3 linked regions of the Homo sapiens genome follow. The protein of the gene in region 2 interacts with the protein of the main gene of each other region in a pairwise test. Each region holds a gene or a part of one and is shown on either strand. Other genes may lie near its edges.

Evidence for each region.
Region 1: the proteins of UQCRC2 (region 2) and ACAP1 interact in binary tests that used the Homo sapiens proteins (3 or more experiments, as listed by UniProt).
Region 3: the proteins of UQCRC2 (region 2) and CACNA1A interact in a two-hybrid assay, tested with the Homo sapiens proteins (one study listed by BioGRID and IntAct).

The regions. Positions count from the first base shown.
Region 1 is NC_000017.11:7,339,280-7,346,583, forward strand, and holds part of ACAP1 (arf-GAP with coiled-coil, ANK repeat and PH domain-containing protein 1), read left to right. Parts: intron 1-2,668; coding exon 2,669-2,788; intron 2,789-2,995; coding exon 2,996-3,049; intron 3,050-3,136; coding exon 3,137-3,195; intron 3,196-4,099; coding exon 4,100-4,283; intron 4,284-4,426; coding exon 4,427-4,471; intron 4,472-4,581; coding exon 4,582-4,677; intron 4,678-4,769; coding exon 4,770-4,844; intron 4,845-5,259; coding exon 5,260-5,369; intron 5,370-6,964; coding exon 6,965-7,016; intron 7,017-7,111; coding exon 7,112-7,212; intron 7,213-7,304. UniProt on the Homo sapiens protein: GTPase-activating protein (GAP) for ADP ribosylation factor 6 (ARF6) required for clathrin-dependent export of proteins from recycling endosomes to trans-Golgi network and cell surface.
Region 2 is NC_000016.10:21,963,312-21,970,615, reverse strand, and holds part of UQCRC2 (cytochrome b-c1 complex subunit 2, mitochondrial precursor), read right to left. Parts: intron 5,209-7,304; coding exon 5,111-5,208; intron 1,989-5,110; coding exon 1,931-1,988; intron 1-1,930. UniProt on the Homo sapiens protein: Component of the ubiquinol-cytochrome c oxidoreductase, a multisubunit transmembrane complex that is part of the mitochondrial electron transport chain which drives oxidative phosphorylation.
Region 3 is NC_000019.10:13,293,336-13,300,639, reverse strand, and holds part of CACNA1A (voltage-dependent P/Q-type calcium channel subunit alpha-1A), read left to right. Parts: coding exon 1-90; intron 91-1,286; coding exon 1,287-2,096; intron 2,097-7,304.

The sequences.
Region 1 (7,304 bases), on a different chromosome or scaffold from region 2:
ACTGTCTCAATAAACAAAAACAAACAAACAAAAAACCCCAATAAACTCTAGCCAAGCTCAGTGGCTCACGCCTGTAATCCCAGCACTTTGGTAGGCTGCGGCAGGTGGATCACGAGGTCAGGACTTCGAGAACAGCCTGACCAACATGATGAAACCCCCATCTCTACTAAAAATACAAAAATTAGCCAGGCGTGGTGGCACGCACCTGTAATCCCAGCTACTCAGGAGGCTGAGGCAGGAGAATTGCTTGAACCCAGGAGGCGGAGGTTGCAGTGAGCCGAGATCACGCCACCACACTCCAGCCTGCGGAGGTCGCAATGAGCCGAGATCGTGCCACTGCACTCCGGCGTGGGCGACAGACCAAGACTCTGTCTCTAAATAAATAAATAAACTCTATAGATCCTACTTTGATTTTACATTTTGCATATACTCTTTTTTGGTGTTTTTGTGTATAATTCTATGGTACTTTATCACGTGTATGGATTCCTTTAACCATCACCACACACCAATGGACACAAGGAATTCCTTTACAGTGGTACCCGACACCCTTCCCACACTTCTTTAATCTGTGGTAACCGCTGATTTGTTCTCCATCTCTCTACTTTTGTCATTTCCAGAATGTTCCATATATAGAATCATACACTATGTGACCCTTTGAGATTTGGCTTCCCCCTCCCCCCTCACTCAGAATAATGCTGCTGCCGGGTGTGGTCGCTCATGCCTGTCATCCCAACTACTCAGGAGGTCAAGGTAGGAGGGTTGCTTGAGGCCAGAAGCTCGAGACCAGCCTGGGCAACATAGCAAGACCCTTGTCTCTAAATAATGTTCTGTTTTGTTTTTAAATTAGCCAGGCATGGTGGTGTGTGCCTGTAGTCTCAGCTACTCAGGAAGCTAAGATTGGAGGATCCCTTGAACCCAGGAGTTCAAGGCTGCAGTGAGCTATGATCCCACCACTGCACTCCAGCCTGGGCGACAGAGACCTCAACTCTAAAAATAATCATAATTTTTTAAAAGATGAATGCTCTTGAAGTTTATCCAAGTTGTTGCACATATCAACAGTTTGTTCCTTTTTATTGCTGAGTACTGTTCTATTGAACAGATGTCCCAGTCTGTCACTAGTCCAGTGTTATGAAAGTTTCTTACTCATCTAAGGGGGAGGGGCTGAGATGGTAAGGAAAAAAACTAGACACAGAGTCCTCAGATTCACACAGTGATTTGTGAACATCCTTGTACCTTGTCACAGACAACCCATGGTGATGTCTGATAAGATTTGATCTCGGTCAGGCCAGGTGCAGTGGCTCATGCCTGTAATCCCAGCACTTCGGGAGGCCGAAGCAGGTGGATCACCTGAAGTCAGGAGTTCGAGACCAGCCTGGTCAACATGGTGAAACCCCGTCTCTACTAAAAATACAAAAAATTAGCTGGGCGTGGTGGCGGGCACCTGTAATCCCAGCTACTCTGGAGGCTGAGGCAGGAGGATCGCTTGAACCTGGGAGGTGGAGGTTGTGGTGAGCCAAGATCATGCCATTGCACTCCAGCTTGGGCAACGGAGCAAAACTCCGTCTCAAAAATAGAAAAATAAAAAGAGATGGGGTTTCACTATGTTGGTCAGGCTGATATCCAACTCCTGACCTCAGGTGATCCACCCACCTCAGCCTCCCAAAGTGTTGAGATTACAGGTCTGAGCCACCTTGCCTGGCCTATCAAGTCTCTTTGTCAGTCAAAAGAGCCAGATAGGATGGGCCCCAGGAGTACCCCGGCATTTCCTCTTGGCCCTGACCCGTGGTCTAGATGATGGATTAATATTTATGAGGGAACGTGCAGTGAGCACAGAATGGGACAACTCCTAGCAGTAAATACTATAGATTTTATTTATTTATTTATTTTTCGAGACAGAGTCTCGGTCTGTCACCCAGGCTGGAGTGCAGTAGCGCCATCTCGGCTCACTGCAGCCTTGACCTCCCGGATTCAGGCAGTCCTCCTGCCTTAGCCCCCCAGGTAACTGGGATTATAGGCACTTGGTGCCATCTCAGCTCACTACAGCCTCAGCCTCCCGGGTTCAAGCAGTCCTCCTGCCTTAGCCTCCCAAGTAGCTGGGATTACAGGCATGTGCCACCATGCCTGGCTAATTTTTGAATTTTTAGTAGAGATGAGGTTTCACCATGTTGCCCAGGCTGCTCTTGAATTCCTGAGCTCAAGCGACTGGCCCGCCTTGGCCTCCCAAAGGGTTGGGATTACAGGTGTGAGCCACCACGCCCGGCCAATACTGTAGAATTTAATAGCAACCAGGTAGAGCATCCAGACCATGCAGGAATCTCCACGGAGCTCTGGATCTAAGCAGGTAGGCAGGGCAGGAAGAGATATGTGCGAGTGGACAGGGAAAGATGTTTTGGAGGTAAGGCTGACAGAGGTGTTGGCGACAGGCTGAGAGGAATGGGCAGGAATTGGGTTTCAGGCCCAAGGCAGTGGGAGCAAAGACGCAGCGATAAGAACACAGCAGGTATGTGTTAGATACAGGGAGAGCTGGATGAGCCTGGAGGGCAGTGAGGCCAGGCAGGAATAGGGGAGCGCCGCCCTGGGCAAGGGGAGAGGAAGTGGGGCAGGTGTGGGGGCATCACCAGGTGTGAGGATGATGGCACAGCTCCCTGTTACCCTCCTTCTTTCCCAGCTCCTGAAACTGGGCACTGGTCTCCTGGAAAGTGGGCGCCATTACCTTGCTGCCAGCCGCGCCTTCGTTGTCGGCATTTGTGACCTGGCCCGCCTGGGTCCACCAGAGCCCATGATGGCGGTATGCGGAGGGTCTGCATCTGGGAGGGAAGGGGTCTGGGATGAGGAGGTGATGCTGTGGAAGAGGAGGGCTGGCCTGGGGTCTGCAGGTTCCAGGCCACAGCAGGGCTGGGCTGCTGTCCATGACAGCCGTAGCAGGCTGGGTCTCGAGTCGGGAGGGTGCTGCCACCCCATGCCTGGTACTCTTTCTGTGCCTCTTCTTGCCTAGGAGTGTCTGGAAAAATTCACCGTGAGCCTGAACCACAAGCTGGACAGCCATGCGGTAAGTAGGGGAAGGTAAGGATTGTCGGGGTGGTGGCCAGGTCACCTGTGGTCCTGACCCCAGTCTACCAACTTCTCCTTCCCTCAGGAGCTTCTAGATGCCACCCAACACACACTGCAGCAGCAGATCCAGACCCTGGTCAAGGAGTGAGATGGGGCCGGGCGCAGTGGCTCATGCCTGTAATCCCAACACTTTGGAAGGCCAAGGCGGGAGGATTGCTTGAGCCCAGGAGTTGGACACCAACCTAGCCAACATGGCGAAACTGTCTCCACAAAAAATACAAAAATTAGGCCGGGCACGGTGGCTCATGCCTATGATCCCGGCATTTTGGGAGGCCAAGGCGGGCGGATCACCTGAGGTCGGGAGTTCGAGACCAGCCTGTCTAACATGGCAAAACCCCAGCTCTACTAAAAAATACGAAAAAAAAAAATTAGCCGGGCATGGTGGCAGGTGCCTGTAATCCCAGCTACTCAGGAGGCCGAGGCAGGAGAATCATTTGAACCCAGGAGGTGGAGGTTGCAGTGAGCCAAGATCGCACTACTTCACTTCAGCCTGGGCAACAGAGTGAGACTCTGCCTCAAAAAAAAAAAAAAAAAAAAAAAAATAGCCGGGCGTGGTGGCACATGTCTGTTGTCCCAGCTTCTTGGGAGGCTGAGGCAGGAGAATTGCTTGAGCCTGGAGGTCAGGGCTGCGGTGAGCCATGATTGTGCCACTGTACTCCAGCCTGGGTAACAGAGCAAGACCCGGTCTCAAAAACAAAAACAACAACAACAACAAAAATTTTTTAAAGGGGGAGTGAGATGGGAGAGAAGGGGGCCTTATTTCTCGGAAACCAGCCCTGCTGCCCTCTTCCCATGGCCACAGGAGCCTCCCCAGTGACGGAGTTGTGAGATTGGGGGTTTCTGGTGTCCTGACTTCCGTCCCAGGGATCACCTTGGGTTTCCCACGTTGCAGAGACTAACTGAAAGGACATGAGGGCTTTACCCTGGGAATGCTCTGCTGGGGCAGGTGGGTGTTAGCTGCGATTCTGTGTTATTTTCCCATCCTCAGAGGTCTGCGGGGTTTCCGAGAGGCTCGCCGGGATTTCTGGCGGGGGGCTGAGAGCCTGGAGGCTGCCCTGACCCACAACGCAGAGGTTCCCAGGCGCCGGGCCCAGGAGGCAGAAGAGGCAGGAGCTGCTTTGAGGACGGCTCGAGCTGGGTACCGGGGACGGGCACTGGATTATGCCCTGCAGGTGCCTGCCCCAATCTGTCTTCCTGGGGTACCAGAGCCTCAAGTGTCACCTCGAGGCTTGGGGGTCTCCAGTGTGCAGTGGGAAGGGGTGCTGTGTCTTCAAGACTGATCTGGGGTTTTTTACGTCCTCTTTTACGTCCTCAGATCAACGTGATTGAGGACAAGAGGAAGTTTGACATCATGGAGTTTGTGAGTTGTGGCGGGGGTGAGGGCAGGGTGGAGAAGAGCCTGCTGCCAGCACAAGGGAATGGGGAGAGGGGTTCTTCCTCAGCCTTCCCACTGCCCGCCTTGTCCCCCAGGTGCTGCGTTTGGTGGAGGCCCAGGCTACCCATTTCCAGCAGGGCCATGAGGAGCTGAGCCGGCTGTCCCAGTATCGAAAGGAGCTGGGCGCCCAGGTGGGGCCCCAGGGCACAGCAGGTGGTAGAGGGAGGTTAGGGACTCCTAACTGGGGGGCCTTGGACATCTGAGATGCCCTTCCTGTGCCCAGTTGCACCAGCTGGTCTTGAATTCAGCACGAGAGAAGAGGGACATGGAGCAGAGACACGTGCTGCTGAAACAGAAGGTGAGGGGCCAGGTGCGGTGGCCCACGACCGTCATCCCAACATGTTGGGAGGCTGAGGTGGGAAGATTGCTTGAGGCCTGGAGTTCAAGATTAGCCTAGGCATCGTAGTGAAACTCCATCTCTACAGAAAATTTTAAAATTAGCTGGTGTGGTGGCATGCACCTCTAGTTCTAGCTACTCAGGAGGCTGAGGTGGGAGGATTGCTTGAGCCCAGGAGTTCAAGACTGCAGTGAGCTATGATCACACAACTGCACTTAAGCCTGGGTGAAAGAACAAGACCCTGTCTCTAAAAATAAATTTTAAAAAGTATTTCAAAAAGCAGAAAGTAAGGGCTAGGGCTGTGGGCAGGAGGCAGATGCCTATGGCCTTGGTGTCTGCCCATCTCAGTTGCCCTTTGATCCTCTTGTGCCTCCAGGAGCTGGGTGGGGAGGAGCCAGAACCAAGCTTAAGAGAGGGGCCTGGTGGCCTGGTGATGGAAGGACATCTCTTCAAACGGGCCAGCAACGCATTTAAGACCTGGAGCAGGTGAGGAGAGGACACCCCCAATCAGCCCGCCCCACCCAATGATGTATTTTCGAGTGGTAATAGCACACTAAGCACTGCAAGGAAAAACAGACGAACCCCCCTGCCTCAGTAGAGTTTCATTCCATCAGCAAAGACAGAGGATAAACCTAGTATGTAAATTACGTGCTATGTTAGAAGGTGATAGTGCTTGCTATAGGAGAAAGATGATAAAGCAAGGGATGTGGGGAGCTGGGTAGGGGTTACAGTTCTAAATAGTTGGGCAGTGTGGGCTTCATGAGAAGGTAACTTTTGAACAAAGACTTGAAGGATATCTGGGGGAAGAAAGTTCTAGACAGAAGAAAGAGCCAGTGCCAAGGCCCTGAGATAGCTGGGGAGTTGGAAGAGCAGGGTGGTGGCCCTGGGTCTGGACAGAGTGAGGGAGGAGGATGTGCAGGAGATGAAATCGGAGCTAATGGGGGCATGAGTCATTATAGGGCCCTATAGATTTTTGTAGGGATTTGGGGTCTACTCTGAGAGCAATTGGGAGCCGCTATAGGGTTTGGAACAGGATGGTGGCATGCTGTGACTTGACTCCTTTCCCTTCTAGGGCCACTGCTAGCCCACATGGGATCTCTGTACAAATTAGAAAATGGAGCTGCTTCCCCAAGATACTCTTTTTTCTTTTTCTTTTCTTTTTTTTTTTCTGTTTTTTTTGAGATGGGGTGTCACTCTGTTGCCCAGCCTGCAGTGCAGTGGCGCAGTCTCGGCTCACTGCAACCTCTATCCCCTGAGTTCAAGTGATCCTCCCTCCTCAGCATCCTAAATAGCTGGGACCACAGGCGTGTGCCATCACGCTCGGCTAATTTTTGTATTTTTGGTAGAAACAGGGTTTCACCATGTTGCCCAGGCTGGTTGCAAACTCCTGACATCAAGCAATCCACCCGCCTCGGCCTCCCAACTTGCTGGGATTACAGGCGTGAGCCACTGTACCTGGCCCCCAAGATTCTTTCTTTTCTTTTTTTCTTTTTCTTTTTTTTTCTTTTTTGATGGAGCCTCGCTATGTTGCGCAGGCTGCAGCACAGTGGTGCGATCTCAGCTCACTGCAACCTCAGCTTCCTGGGTTCAAGCGATTCTCCTGCCTCAGCCTCCCAAGTAGGTGGGATTATAGCCGCCTGCCACCACGCCTGGCTAATTTTTGTATTTTTAGTAGAGACGGAGTTTCACCATATTGGTCAGGGTGGTCTCAAACTCCTGACCTCGGGTGATCCACCACCCCCATCAGCCTCCCAAAGTGCTGGGATTACAGGTGTGAGCCCAGCCTAAATAGTATTTTTTAAATTGTAGCAATAGACATTTTATTAGAAAAAGAATTTTACTGCCATCTGCTGGAAAGTTGTCTTCATAACTATATGAAATCTGGGTTGTCCAAGATAGGAATAGCATCCTTTAGATGTTCCAATCTGCACAATTGTCCACCCTTCTCTGGAATGTCTCGTGGAACAGTCAGCCCAGGTGTCTGTCCTCTCAGTAAGATCCTCATGGGCAAAAAGCACAGCCTCTCTTCCGTCCCTCATCCTAAAGCTGCCTATGTCTGTAATGATTTCCTTCTCTTACAGACGCTGGTTCACCATTCAGAGCAACCAACTGGTTTACCAGAAGAAGTACAAGGTGAGTGGACCTGGGTCCTGGATGCCTGGGCCCCAGGGAGACTCAGCTCTTGCCTGCAGCTGGACATCTGGCCCCTTATCACCTTATCCTGCCAGGACCCTGTGACTGTGGTGGTGGATGACCTTCGTCTCTGCACAGTGAAACTCTGCCCTGACTCAGAAAGGCGGTTCTGCTTTGAGGTGGTGTCCACCAGCAAGTGAGTGCAATCCCCAGGGGTGATACTCTAATATATCTAAACAACTGCCAATCTGAAAGGCAGGGCCCACCACAATGGAGGCCCCCCATGCA
Region 2 (7,304 bases):
AGCCTCTGTCTCAAAAAAACAAACAAACAAAAAAAGTTATACAAATGGACAAAAAGCACATGAAAATATGTTCAATGTCATTTGTCATTAGGGAAATACAAATCAAAACTACAATGACCACTTCCCACCCAGTAGGTTGTTCATAATCAGAAAGACAGACGATAAGTGTTGGTGAGGATGTGGAGAAATCAAAACCTTTGTGCATTGCTGGTGGGAATGTAAAATGGTGCAGCTACTTTGGAAAACAGTCTGGCAGTTCCCCAAATGGTTAAACAGAGTTACCATATGTCCTGGCAATTCTGTTCTTAGACATAACCAAAAGAACTAAAAACAGGTTTCCTAAGAAAAATGTACACGTGAATGTTTATATTTACGACAGCCAAAAGGTAGAAACAACCCAAATGCCAATCAATGAATAAACAAAATGTGGTAATGGAGTATTCTTGAGCCATAAAAGGGAATAAGACATTGAATTGACACATGCTACAATATGGACGGACCTTGAAAACATTATGCTAAGTAAGAAAAGCCAGTTACAAAAGGCCACATATCGTATGACTCCATTTATAGGAAATGTCCAGAATAGTCAAATCTATAGAGACAAAGTAGATTATTGCTACTTAGGAGGCTGAGGTGGGAGGATCACCTGAGCCTAGGAGTTCAAGGCAGTGAGCTATGATTGTGCCACTGTGCTCCAGCTTGGGCAACAGAATGAGACCTCCATCTCTTTAAAAAAAAAAACAAAAACAAAGTAGATTAGTGGATGCCACAGGCAGGGGGAAGATGAGAATGGGGAGTGACTGCTAATGGGTATGGGGCTTTTGGGGGGATGATGAACACACCCTGAAATTAGGTAGTGGTAATAGTTGAATCTGTTAAAAACCACAGAACTATTCACTTCAAAAGGGTGAATTTTATAGCATGTAAATTATATCTTAAGCTGTAATTTGCAAAACAAAACAAAAAATATTACAAATGATATTCTCATGCAACTACTTTGTAAACTTGACCTAATGTTTCTGTAAGACAAATTCTTAAAAGTCACTGGGTCTATGAGTGTAAACATTTGGAATTGTATTTTTTTGAGACAGAGTCTCACTCTGTCGCCCTTGCTGGAGTGCAGTGGCACGATCTCAGCTCACTGCAATCACTGCCTCCTGGGTTCAAGCGATTCTCCTCCTCAGCCCCCCGATAGCTGGGATTACAGGCATGTGTCACCATGCCCGACTAATTTTTGTATTTTTAGTAGAGACGGGGTTTCGCCATGTTGGCTAGGCTGGTCTTGAACTCCTGACCTCAGGTGATCCGCCCGCCTCAGCCTCCCAAAGTGCTAGGATTACAGGCATGAGCCACCATGCCCAGCCTAGAATTTTAACAGATATGTTCAAAAAGATCTCCCAAAATGTTGTACTAGTTTATATTCCTACTAACAATTTGTGAGAGTGCCTATTTCTCCATACCCTGGTTAATTCTGGGCAGAGTCCATCTTTTAATTTTGCCAACATCACAGATTAAAATTTTCTTAATTATTAGTGAGGCTGATCATTTAAAACAAAGATAGTTGGCTACACATATACAAACATATTTCTCCCATGAACTGTCTGTTCATGCCCTTTGCCTGTTTTTCTAGTAAGCTGTACTTCCTTTTAAAAAAGTTTGTAAAAGCTCTTTGCTTTGAGAAATTCACCTTTGTCACAGGTTTTACAAATACTGTAAAGAATTTAAAGCCAGTGGTTTACAAATTTAAATGTTGGATTCTGCTTTCCAAAACAAATGACTAGCAATTAAAATCCTATGATATATTGCCTGTCTGACATAAATAGAAGGCCGAAGTTTTCAAATTTTGTTCAATCCTATGTTCACGTAATTACAGTTTAAGGAACTGCTCTTAAGGAAGCAAACTGACAGGCAGGCAATACTCTAAACTTACCAAGTCCAATCAAAGCCATTCTTGCACTTGTGAAATGGTTCTGAACGAAGTAATGTAACTGAGGAAGTTAAAAACACTTATTAGGTTATATTAGCATAAATATAAAAAGCTGTAAAAACATAAAAGTACAGTTTGGAAGAAAATAAATACTTATAAGGCCTTATAAGTTGCTGTAATGAACTACAAGGTACTAACTGAGGTGAATTACCCTGGGATTTTATTATAAAAACTATTGCTTAAAAGAACTAGAACCTAATTGTGGTCATGGTTGCACAACTCTGTGAATATAATGAAAACCACTGAATTGTGTACACTTTAAATAGGTTGTATAGTATGGTGAATTACATCTCAACAAAGCTGTTATTTATAAAAGGAATAAAAAGAGGCTGGGTGCAGTAGCTCATGTCTGTAATCCCAGCACTCTGGGAGGCCAAGGCTGGCGGATCATTTGAGGCCACGAGTTTGAGACCAGCCTGGGCAACACAGCGAAATCCTGACTCTACTAAAAATGCAAAAATTAGCCAGGCATGGTGGTGCACGCCTGTAATCCCAGCTACATGGGTGGCTGAGGCACGAGAATTGTTTGAATCCAGGAGGCAGAGGTTGCAGTGAGCTGAGATCGTGTCATTGCACTCTGGCCTGGGCGACACAGCAAGACTCTGTCTCAAAAAAAAAAAAAAAAAAAGGAATAAAAAGAAATTAGAGCATACACTGGCCTAAACTTGAAAACGTGGACTATGATTTTTATTATAATGTAGCTTACGTAGTATGTCAGGTTTCTTTTGTGTTTATATAAGTAGTAATGAAGCACTATTAACATTCTATAACAGGGCTAACAGAGTTTTACCACAACACCCTTCTCGTCCATCTTTGAAGCCAATCTCTATAAAGCTTTTCTGACCATGAAGTCATTGTCTATACCAGGGTGTCGAAACTGTAAGATCACAATTACTCAGCTTGAAAAACAAAAACGGTCACTGTCCCCCATTCTTGGGACTTACCCTACAGACTGATATAAAATATTAAATGTGGAATCCTAGAATCCTTATTTAAAACCGACCAACTACCCATCCATCCAATCAACCACTCAGGCGATCTGAAGATTGGTGAGACTTGGTTATCACTGGTTTATATTACCACCTTAGGCTTAATATACAAAAGTAGGGCTAAAACATGTACTTTCAACAGAAATGCTATCCTTTCCAGATGGGTGAAAATTGGTTTGGGGTAACTAAGAAAAAAAAAAAACTTACGACTTCTATGTAAAAAGTACAAATATACAGCACATAAACTCTATCTGTGGTATTAAAAGTAAGAGGTTTAGAAAAAAATGGCTAGAAAGGCTCCTCAGGAAGGAAAGTGATAACGTTTTGAGAATCACTGGGCTAAAGTAATGAAACTGAACTTTTAATCAATTTATCATAATCCGTGCCCTAAAATGAATGGTGTCTGTACCTATGGAGTAACCTTGGAAAGTCATACTCTTTTTCTATTGATGTTTTTCTATTGATGCTGCCATTGCTCCAAGTATTCTAGCGCCAATTTCTTTAGAGTTTCCTTTAGCCTAGGGACACATTTAAAAAATACTATTAACTTTGAGATAACCAAGTTATCACAGTTAACATCTTGATATTTGTCTATAATGCATACATACATACCTTTTATTAAAAAAAAGGGACCTTTTGGTATGTCCTAATCCATAAATTGCTTTATGTGACAACATGCTGTGGAGTTTTATGTATCAACTAATATTTTTGAATGGTTGAATACTGTTCCATTCTATAAGTTATTTAACTAGTTCCCTAATGCTGGATATTAACTTGTTTCTAATTTTTCACAATTATAAACTAGTATTACAATAGCCATCCTTGTAGATAAACTTTTGCTAAGTTTTAGCTAACTTAATGACACATCTTCATGAGGGTGAATTTGATTTCTGAAAAATTTCAAAACTCATTAGAGTCCAGTCTTATGAAAACGGCTGCCTGTTCAAGTTGGATGATGTAAGTTAAAATTTCTAAATAAAAGTGCCATATGAATGAAAGGCATCAAACTGTTAATTGATAAGTCAAAAAGAGCAAGGGATACAGTTTAGTTTTCTGTAACAGCTAACTAAGAATAAAACGAGAATAAAAACCTTGAATTTTTGAGTCAGATATACTTTGAAGGTGTTGATAATTACAAATTTTTCTCTTAATGTCTTTTGATAAAATTTGTTTTTGGGTCTGGGTGGTAGGAATAGGAAATTAAGATTATACGCACATATCTACACTTGTAGATTTAGCATTCAATGTTTCATGTTTTGGAAACAAAGTTCTAAGATGCACATATGGCTGTGGCATGTGACAAACCCCTATAGCCAGCAAACGGAGGCTGGTGTGCTGAAGAACGTGAATGAGTGAGCGAGGATGGAACAGGAGCTAAGGAAGTGGGCTCAAGTCTTATTTACAAATTCAGAGAGACCAAAGAGTTTTAGTCAAAGGACCTATTTTATATATATGTATACACACACACATATATATATATTTTTTTTTTGTAGAGACAGGGTCTTGCTATGTTGCCCAGGCTGGTCTTGAACTCCTGGCCTCAAGTGATCCCTCTGTCTTGGCCTCCCAAAGTGCTGAGATTACACGCATGAGCCACTGGGCCCAGCCCCTATTATGATACTTAAACATTTAAATACTGTTTAAAAAAGATACACAGGCTGGGTGCAATGGCTCATGCCTGTAATCCCAGCACTTTGAGAGGCATAGGCAGAAGGACTGCTTGAGCTTAAGAGTTCAAGACCAGCCTAGGCAACACAGCAAGACCCCGTATTTAAAACAAACAAACAAAAAAGATACATACACACAGAAAACGGTTTAGAAGAAAATATACCAGGTATTAACACTGAGTGCCTTTAGGTATGTGAGATGTTTTCTTTCCCTTCATTTTGTTTGATTTTACTTTTTAATTTTTCTGTAATGATCATGTCCCTTTAGTCATGAAAACATTTCTTAAAGGAGACACAAAAATTGTTCAGATAAAATTTTAGTTAAAAAGCAGGTGGATGAAAAAGCTAGCACGCTGAATTTCTTAAAGTTAGAAGATAAAAGGAAAAATTAACAAACAAACCTGAAATGGGAGATGTTCAATTTAATGTGAAAAACAAGCACATTTCAAAATATGTTTTATTGGTACCTCCTCTGATGTCACTTTTCCAATCCTATAGTCAGGACAATACAAGGGATTAGCCAAGGCATTCCGGTAAGCTGCTGCATGCAAATTTTCAATGACATCTGTGAGATAAGTGAAGAAGCATTTAGGGAAATGCACTTTCAGTAAAGACAACATTTTTAAAACCTAGAAAGCAACAAGCCTATACAAATTTGGTCATCTTCTGGCATTCATATGTTAAGAGGACTTAAAATTTATTATTATTTAACCTCTAGTAACTGCCAGTTTCTGCCAGTAGAATGTGCTGAGAAAAAAATAAAAAAGATTACATGGCAGCAGCTTCTATATACTGGAGTCCACCTAAACCACTTTTCTAACTTTAACCTAGCTGGTATCACTTGGAAGGTATACTGGCCTGGGTTTTGGGAAGTCCCCATCTAGTTATGGTTCTGCCGCCATCTTGCCATGTGACCTTGGACAAGTCATTTAATCTGAATTTTACTTACTCCTAGGTTTCCTCTCTAGGTAATAAGGAGATTGTCAGGTAGCTTTCAGGGGACCAATGGGAGCTTCCACTGGGACTTACTCCTCTGTGGTGCTTGGTGCTTTCCCTGCTTTCTTGCTTCAATGCCTTTTTGCCTGCAGTATTTCCTTCAGTTGCTCATTACCTGGCAACTTGCCTATGCGAGGCACTGTGCTAGGTGCTAGAAATACAGAGATGTGGAACATACAATGCCTGCCCTCAAATTTTAAGAGGAAAAACTGTGAAATAAAGTATTATGGGTGCAATGTCGGCAGTGTGTCAAAAGTGCAGTAGAGGTACAAGGCAAGGGCAGTGGGAATTGGAAAACAATTAATACAAGTAATATGTGGGATCCATCTTACAGAATGAGCTGGTGTTTCCCAGGGGAAATCATTTGGGAACAGCATTTTAGGCACAGGAAGCAGACAAAACAAAGGCATAAAGTATAACAATAATTTGATTCAAATGGGAATTGCAGCTGGAAGGAGAAGAGGGTAGAGCATAAAGTAAGAGAAGTGGGCTGGGGTAAGATCACGCAAGGCCATATACGTATATGCTGTTTGGACTTTATCCCATAGATAATAAGAAGGCTTACTTTCACGTCAGAAGGATCACTGTAATGGCCGTGTGGGAGATGGACTCAAGACGTAAACCTGGAGGCTGACACCAGCCAGGAGACTACACAGTAACTGTTCAGGCAGAATAGATGCAGGCTGGTGCCTCACTGCCGCCAGTGGGGAAGAAGCCACTCTGGACACATAGGTCATCTTTTCTAAAATTGTACTATTCTATCTATTTCTTCAGTAGAAATCCTGAGCAACAAAGATAATGCTCCTCTGTGACACCAAGCATCATCATGAAATAACATCAGTCCCCAGGCCTGCATGTGGAGGGGAGCCTGTCCCATGCTGAACCACTGAGTTGAGCTATTTCTGCTCTTCCTGCACATTTCTGCTCCCACCAGAAGTTGTATGACTCCCAAGAGTCAGCGGCGCTTGCTTACAGACTTGTATTACCAGTTGTACTTGTCAAGATTATATAATTAGACATTATATAAACATAAAATATGAATGCAAAAAAGATTCCTATTAAAAAAATTAAGTTACTTACTTTGGAAAGACTCAATAAAGAGGAGATGGCTAAACAATAATAGCAATACAATAGTAAGCAATAATAGCAGCAGCAATAAACTGGTGTAGGATTTGGGGTAAGCAAAACAACTCTTAAAAATCACTAGGGGTCAGGCACAGTGGCTCACGCCTGTAATCCCAGCACTTTGGGAAGCTGAGGTGGGAGGATCACTTCAGCCCAGGAGTTCGAGACCAGCCTGGGCAATAGAGTGAGACCTCATCTCTATAAAAAAATAAAAATAAAAATTAGCAGGGTGCGGTGGTGTGTGCCTGTAGTCCCAGCTACTCAGGAGGCTGAGGTAGGAGGATCACCTGAGTCCAGAAGGTTCAGGCTGCAGTGAGATTGTGCCACTGCACTCCAGCCTGGGCAACAAGCAACACCCTGTCTCAAAAACAAACAAACAAACAAACAAAAACAAAACATTGGGAAGGAAACAGGAAAAACTTCTAGGATCTTACAAACAATTTACTTACCATCAAACATGAAAAATGATTATAAATGTTTAGAAACAAAAGAATAATAAATCTAAATAACAAATTTTTGAAAAAGATATTTTCAAATTCA
Region 3 (7,304 bases), on a different chromosome or scaffold from region 2:
AGAAGCAGCGAACCAGAAACTTGCCCTACAGAAAGCCAAGGAGGTGGCAGAAGTGAGTCCTCTGTCCGCGGCCAACATGTCTATAGCTGTGTAAGTGCCCCTAATCCCTGGGATGCTACCCTGGCTCCTGAACGTCCACACTATCCCAGGCACAGATTTGGGAAGCAGTGGGGGTGGTCCTTGACAGAACTGAGCTTTAGGAAGAGACACTTCTTGTCCTTCCACCCACTTTCACTCAATAAATATTTGGTTAGCAGCTGTTATGTACCCAGCACTGTTCTAACTTCTGGGGATACAGCATTAACAAGGAGGAAAAAAAAAATCCCACCTGTGTGTAGCCATTCTAGCAAGGGAAGGAGTCAATAAATTAGATAAATAAGTAAATTATATATTGTGTTAGAAGGCGATGGAACTACAGAGAAAGTAGGGGAGGGAAATAGCAAATGCTGGGAGTGAAGAGAGTTGTGATTTTAAACGAAGTTGTCAGGGAAGGCATCACCTAGAATAGGGGTCCCCAGTCCCGGGGCTGTGGACTGGTACCAGGCCGAGGCCTATTAGGAACGGGGCTGCACAGCAGGAGGTGAACAGTGAGCAAGCAAGCATTACCGCCTGAGCTCCACCTGCCGTCAGATCAGCAGGCAGCATTAGATTCTCATAGGAACACAAACACTATTGTGAACGGTGCATCTGAGGGATCTAGGTTGCGTGCTCCTTTTAAGAATCGAATGCCTGATGATCTCAGGTGAAACAGTTTCATCCCAAAACCACCCCCCACACCTAGGTCTGTGGAAAAACTGTCTTCCACAAAACTGGCCCCTGGTGCCAAAAAGGTTGGGGACTGCTCACCTAGAAGGTTACATGGCCTGAAGGAGGTGAGGGAGGAGCCACTGGGGGGCCTGGGGAAGGGCATCCCAGGCAGAGGGAACAGCATAGGCAATGGCCCTGAGGCAGGAACATGCCTGATGTGAAGGAGGCCTGTGTGACTAGAATCGAATAGTAAGTGTGAGGAGGTGAAGGCAAGGAGGTGACAAGCAGATTACACAGGGCCTTCTGGGTCAGGGGGGAGGACTTGGGCTTTTGCCCCTAGCCAGGTGGGAGCCATGGAGGGTTCTTGAGCAGAGGAGGCTGGGACCTGACTCAGATGCTCACAGACTCCTAGCATTCAGTGGGGAGTAGAGGGTGGAGAGCAGGAGTGGGAGGCTGAGATGTGGGTTGGTTCGCCTGGGTCATCCATCCAAGCTACAGTGCCTAGCAATGCTCTAAGTCCTGTGACCATGCCACTGCAGGAAAGAGCAACAGAAGAATCAAAAGCCAGCCAAGTCCGTGTGGGAGCAGCGGACCAGTGAGATGCGAAAGCAGAACTTGCTGGCCAGCCGGGAGGCCCTGTATAACGAAATGGACCCGGACGAGCGCTGGAAGGCTGCCTACACGCGGCACCTGCGGCCAGACATGAAGACGCACTTGGACCGGCCGCTGGTGGTGGACCCGCAGGAGAACCGCAACAACAACACCAACAAGAGCCGGGCGGCCGAGCCCACCGTGGACCAGCGCCTCGGCCAGCAGCGCGCCGAGGACTTCCTCAGGAAACAGGCCCGCTACCACGATCGGGCCCGGGACCCCAGCGGCTCGGCGGGCCTGGACGCACGGAGGCCCTGGGCGGGAAGCCAGGAGGCCGAGCTGAGCCGGGAGGGACCCTACGGCCGCGAGTCGGACCACCACGCCCGGGAGGGCAGCCTGGAGCAACCCGGGTTCTGGGAGGGCGAGGCCGAGCGAGGCAAGGCCGGGGACCCCCACCGGAGGCACGTGCACCGGCAGGGGGGCAGCAGGGAGAGCCGCAGCGGGTCCCCGCGCACGGGCGCGGACGGGGAGCATCGACGTCATCGCGCGCACCGCAGGCCCGGGGAGGAGGGTCCGGAGGACAAGGCGGAGCGGAGGGCGCGGCACCGCGAGGGCAGCCGGCCGGCCCGGGGCGGCGAGGGCGAGGGCGAGGGCCCCGACGGGGGCGAGCGCAGGAGAAGGCACCGGCATGGCGCTCCAGCCACGTACGAGGGGGACGCGCGGAGGGAGGACAAGGAGCGGAGGCATCGGAGGAGGAAGTAAGTGGAGGTGACCTCGAATCCGCAGAATGACGGTAACATTAATAATGACAACAGCCAAAGTAGCACGTGCTGTGTATTTGTTTATAAAAATATATTATAAAATGCTGTATTTGGCCAGGCGCAGTGGCTCACGCCTGTAATCCCAGCACTTTGGGAGGCCGAGGCGGATGGATCACGAGGTCAGGAGTTCAAGACCAGCCTGGCCAAGATGGTGAAACCCCACCTCTAATAAAAATACAAAAATTAGCCGGGCACGGTGGCAGGCGCCTGTAGCCCCAGCTACTCAGGAGGCTGAGGCAGGAGAATCGCCTGAAAACAGGGGGCGGAGGTTGCAATGAGCCGAGATCACACCACCGCACTCCAGCCTGGGCGACAGAGTGAGACTCTGTCTCAAAAAAAAAAAAAAAGTGCTGTATTTGGCCAGGAGCAGTGGCTCATGCCTGTAATCCCAGCACTTTGAGAGGCCGAGGCGGGCGGATCACTTGAGGTCAGGAGTTGGAGAACAGGCTGGCCAACATAGTGAAACCCCGTCTCTACTAAAAATACAAAAATTAGTGGTGGTGCCCACCTGTATTCCCACTACTCAGGAGGCTGAGGCGGGAGAATCAGTTGAACCTGGGAGGTGGAGGTAGGTTGCAGTGAGCTGAGATCGTGCCATCACACTCCAGCCTGGGCAACAGAGCAAGACTCTGTCTCAAAAAAAAAAAAATGCTGTATGTTTTTGTTTTTTTGACACAGGGTCTCGCCTGTTGCCCAGGCTGGAGTGCAGTGGCAGTCATAGCTCAGTGCAGCCTCTACCTCCCGGGCTCAAGCCATCCGCCTCAGCCTCACAAGTAGCTGGGACCACAGACATGTGCCACATGCCTGGCTAATTTTTGTAGAGACAGTGTTTTGTAGAGACAGGGTTTCACTGTGTTTCCCAGGCTGGTCTCAAACTCCTGAACTCAAGCATTCCGCCTGCCTTAGCCTCCCTAAAGTGCTGGGACTACAGGGTTGAGCCACCACACTCAGCCTAATTTTTTTACCTTTAGTAGAAATGAGGCCTGGCTCTGTTGCCCAGGCTGGTCCCCAACTCCTGGCCTCAAGCAATCATCCCACCTCAGTCTCCCAAAGTGTTCGGATTAGAGGCTTCACAGATGGGGAAACTGAGAGATTGAGTGAGCTCCTCAAGGTCATTCCTCTAACCAGTGTCCTTGAACCCAGGCTCTCTGGCACCAGAGGCCTTGAGCATTTCAGGGAAACTATTAAGAGAAGCCCCACTGTCGTCCAGAATTATATAGTCTTCTGTGTTCTTGCTGTGTGACTTTTGCAAAGTGACTTCATATCTCTGGGCCTCACACAATGGAAATAGTGGGATCTAATTGGGTCATTGCCAGGATTGAATGAGGTAATGTATGCAAAGGGCCTGGAAGAGCAGCTGACACATAATAAGTGCTCGGTAAATTTAGAGCATTTTTGGCCATTTTCAGCCAACTCTATTTACCTAATGCTATTCTTTGGAAGTTTGAAAAGCCACTCTGTTGGGAGGCCAAGGTGGGAGGATCACTTGATACCAGGAGTTGGAGACCAGTCTGGGCAATAGAGGCAGACCCCATCTCTATAAAATATAAAAAATTAAACAGATGTGGTGGCATGCACCTGCAGTCCCAACTACTTGGGAGGCTGAGGCAGGAGGGTCACTGGAGCCCAGGATGTCTAGGCTATGATGAGCTATGATTGCACCACTGCACTTCAGCCTGGGCGACAGAGCAAGGCTTTGTCTCAAAAAATAAAATAAAAAATAAAGAAAAAGAAAAGGCACTTTGGGCCGTTAGAATTGAAGGGAGAGCAGAGTTTCAAAGCTTTGGATGCAGCGGGATGTGGTGGCTCATGCCTGTAGTCCCAGCACTTTGGGAGGCCAAGGTGGGAGGATCCACTTGAGCCCCGGAGTTCAAGACCAGCCTGCGCAACATAGTGAGACCTCACCTTTTAAAAATAAATAAAAATGTTAGAAAGCTTTTGAGGCATCTTCCAGGCCAGCAACTTATCCATTCAGAACCAGCATCCTCTTTTTCATAACGACATTTTGTAATACTTTCTAGCAGATGCTATAGTGATTCTGCATATAGGGACTCAACAACTTACCCATTAAAATAGACATCGTAGACATTGTCCTATTACAAATTAACCTGCTCTTAGTCCTCTTTTATATTACCATCAGGGCATAATATTGATTTTTTTAATGATGGGTTTAAGTGATCCTGTTGTATGACATATGAGGTAGGCCAGCACTTCTCAAAATCTAATGTGTATGTGAATCCCCAGGGATCTTGTTAAAACACAAATTGTAATTCCGTAGGGCTAAGGACTCAGTGGAGCCTGAGATTCTGCATTTGCAACGAGCTCCCAGATGAGGCTGATACTACTGGTCCAGGGACCACATTTTGAGTAATGAGACTCTGGAGGACATAGTGAAGTAATTCTGATATGTACACCATACACAAAATCACCATGAAGTGACAGGCACAAATGATGGCTAACTCTGGGTTGTGTGGACAATTCAAACCACATGAGGGGAGTTGCCAGCAGTGTCAAGATGTTCCACAATGTTGAACACCTCTTGGCAAAGTTCCATATACAAAAGAGTCTAGTCTTTCTTCCATTTATTTAATAGTTGCATTGCAGGAAAATGCAATGTATATTAAAAACATACAAAAAATATGTTGTGTTCTTATGTAAAAGAGTTAGGTTTAAACTAAAAGCACAGGATCAGGTGCAGTGGCTCCCACCTGTAATCCCAGTGCATTGGGAGGCTGAGGAAGGAGAATCGCTTGAGGCCAGGAGTTCGAGACCAACCTGGGCGACATAAGGAGACCTCGATCTCTACAAAAGAAGTTTTTTAATTAGCCAGGTGTGGCGGCAGGTGCCTGTAGTTCTAGCTACTTGGAAGGCTGAAGCAGGAGGATTGCTTGAGCCCAGGAGTTCAAGATTACAGTGAGCTATGATTATGCCATTGCATTCCAACCTGGGCAACAGAACAAGTCCTTGTCTCAAAAAAAAAAAAAAGAAAGAAAGAAAGAAAAAACCCAAACAAACAAGCAAACTAAAAGCACAGGTAATTACAAGCAAGATTTTTCACCTCTTTGAGGGACATTAGAAAGTCATGAAGAGGAAAAGATAAGTCTTTCCCATATGGGACTGTCATGTACATGGTAGGGTATTTAGTATAACTGCCTACCATTCTCTAAGTGCCTGCAGTGCCCCTCAATCATTATGTTATTAGGTTTCCACGTAGTTCTACAACAGTTTTCTGAAAACCATTGTTCTAGGTCATTCTTTCGCTTCAATCTTCTCCTATGGGTTTATGCATTCATTCAGTTAGTATTTACTAAGTGCCTACTATATTCTAAGCTCATGCTGTGAGTTCAGTCACACAACTGCAAGTGAAGTGGTCTGAGACATTCTGAGAAATACGACCAAGAAACTGCTCCCAGGGTCTCAGGGCAGGTTTCCAGAGGAGCAATCTGAGAAGGGAGTAGAGTGTTTCAGTCTAACAACAGCATGTGCAAAGGCCCTGGGGTGGACCAGAAGGAGGCCAGTTTGCAGGACATGACTAGTGACGAGAAAGTGACAAAGAAATTGAAGGTGCATTGATGAGACTCTGGGGCTGTCAGTCACTCAGGGGAATGAGAGATCAAAACGGGAGTTTAGGTGGAATAAAGTGTTTACCACAGCACTCTCTGTATAGTAAAGACCAATGAAGAGCCAGGTACAGGCCAGTGTGATGGTTCACGCCTGTAATCCCAGCACTTTGGGAGGCAGAGACAGGTGGATCACCTGAGGTCAGGGGTTCAGAACCAGCTTGGCCAACATGGCAAAACCCTGTCTCTACTAAAAATACAAAAAATTAGCCAGGCGTGGTGGTGGACGCCTATAATCCCAGCTACTCAGGAGGCTGAGGCACAAGAATTGTCCTGCGAGGCAGAGGTTACAGTGAGCTGAGATCACACCACTGCACTCCAGCCTGGGCAACAGAACAAGACTCTGTCTCAAAAAAAAAAAAAAAAAAAAAAAGCCAGGTACAGTGGTATGCACCTGTAATCCCAGCTACTCAGGAGGCTGAGGCAAAGGATTGCTTGAGCCCAGGAGTTCGAGACCAGCCTGAGCATTTAGAGAATGGGAGGCCAGTATACTAAATACCCTACCATGTACAAGACAGTCTCATATGGAAAAGAATTATCCTTTCCTCTTCATGACTTTCTAGTGCTCCTCACACAGGTGAAAAATCTTGCTTATAATTATCTGTGCCTTTAGTTTGTTGGTTTATTTAGGGTTTTGTTTGTTTTTTTTTTTTTTTTGAGGCAGGGTCTTGCTCTGTTGCCCAGGTTGGATTGCAGTAGCATTGCTCATTTTAGAGATGAGCAAGACCTCATGTCTAAAAAAAAAAGAAAGACCAATGATTATTAATTACTCTTGCTATTATTACTAATATTACTGTTATTATCAGCCTTATTAACAGATCTACTGTTATTGAAGGAGGCAGAGTGACAGGGACAAAATGTCTCTCCCTAACAATATGCCAGGAAGAGTTTTTGAAAGACAACAGTAAACATTGGAAACTACAAGAGCAGCAAAGCCTGGTTGTGAAAGGCAAGGACTTTGGGGCAGGCAGTCACATTCCTGCCCTATCACTTCCAGGCTGTGTGACTTTCAGAATTTCACTCCTCTCTGGGCCTCCATTTCCTCATCTATAAAATGAAGATAAGAATAGTAGCTACCTCCTTCTCTGGGTATAAGATTTAACTGAGCCGGGCGCGGTGGCTCATGCCTGTAATCCCAGCACTTTGGGAGGCCGAGGTGAGCGGATCACAAGGTCATGAGTTCAAGACCATCCTGGCTAATATGGTGAAACCCCATCTCTACTAAAAATACCAAAAAAAAAAAAAATTAGCCGGGCGTAGGTGGTGCACGCCTGTAGTCCCAGCTACTCGGGAGGCTGAGGTAGGAGAATGGTGTAAAACCCGGGAGGCGGAGCTTGCAGTGAGCCGAGATCGCACCACTGCACTCCAGCCGGGGAGACAGAGCGAGACTCCATCTCAAAAAAAAAAAAAAAAAAAAAAAAGATTTAACTGAGTTAGTACGTGTAAAATGCTTTGAGTGGTTCCTGGCTTATACCAAGAGCTCAATAAATGTTAGCAATTTTTTGTAGCATTTTGGGGTCTCACT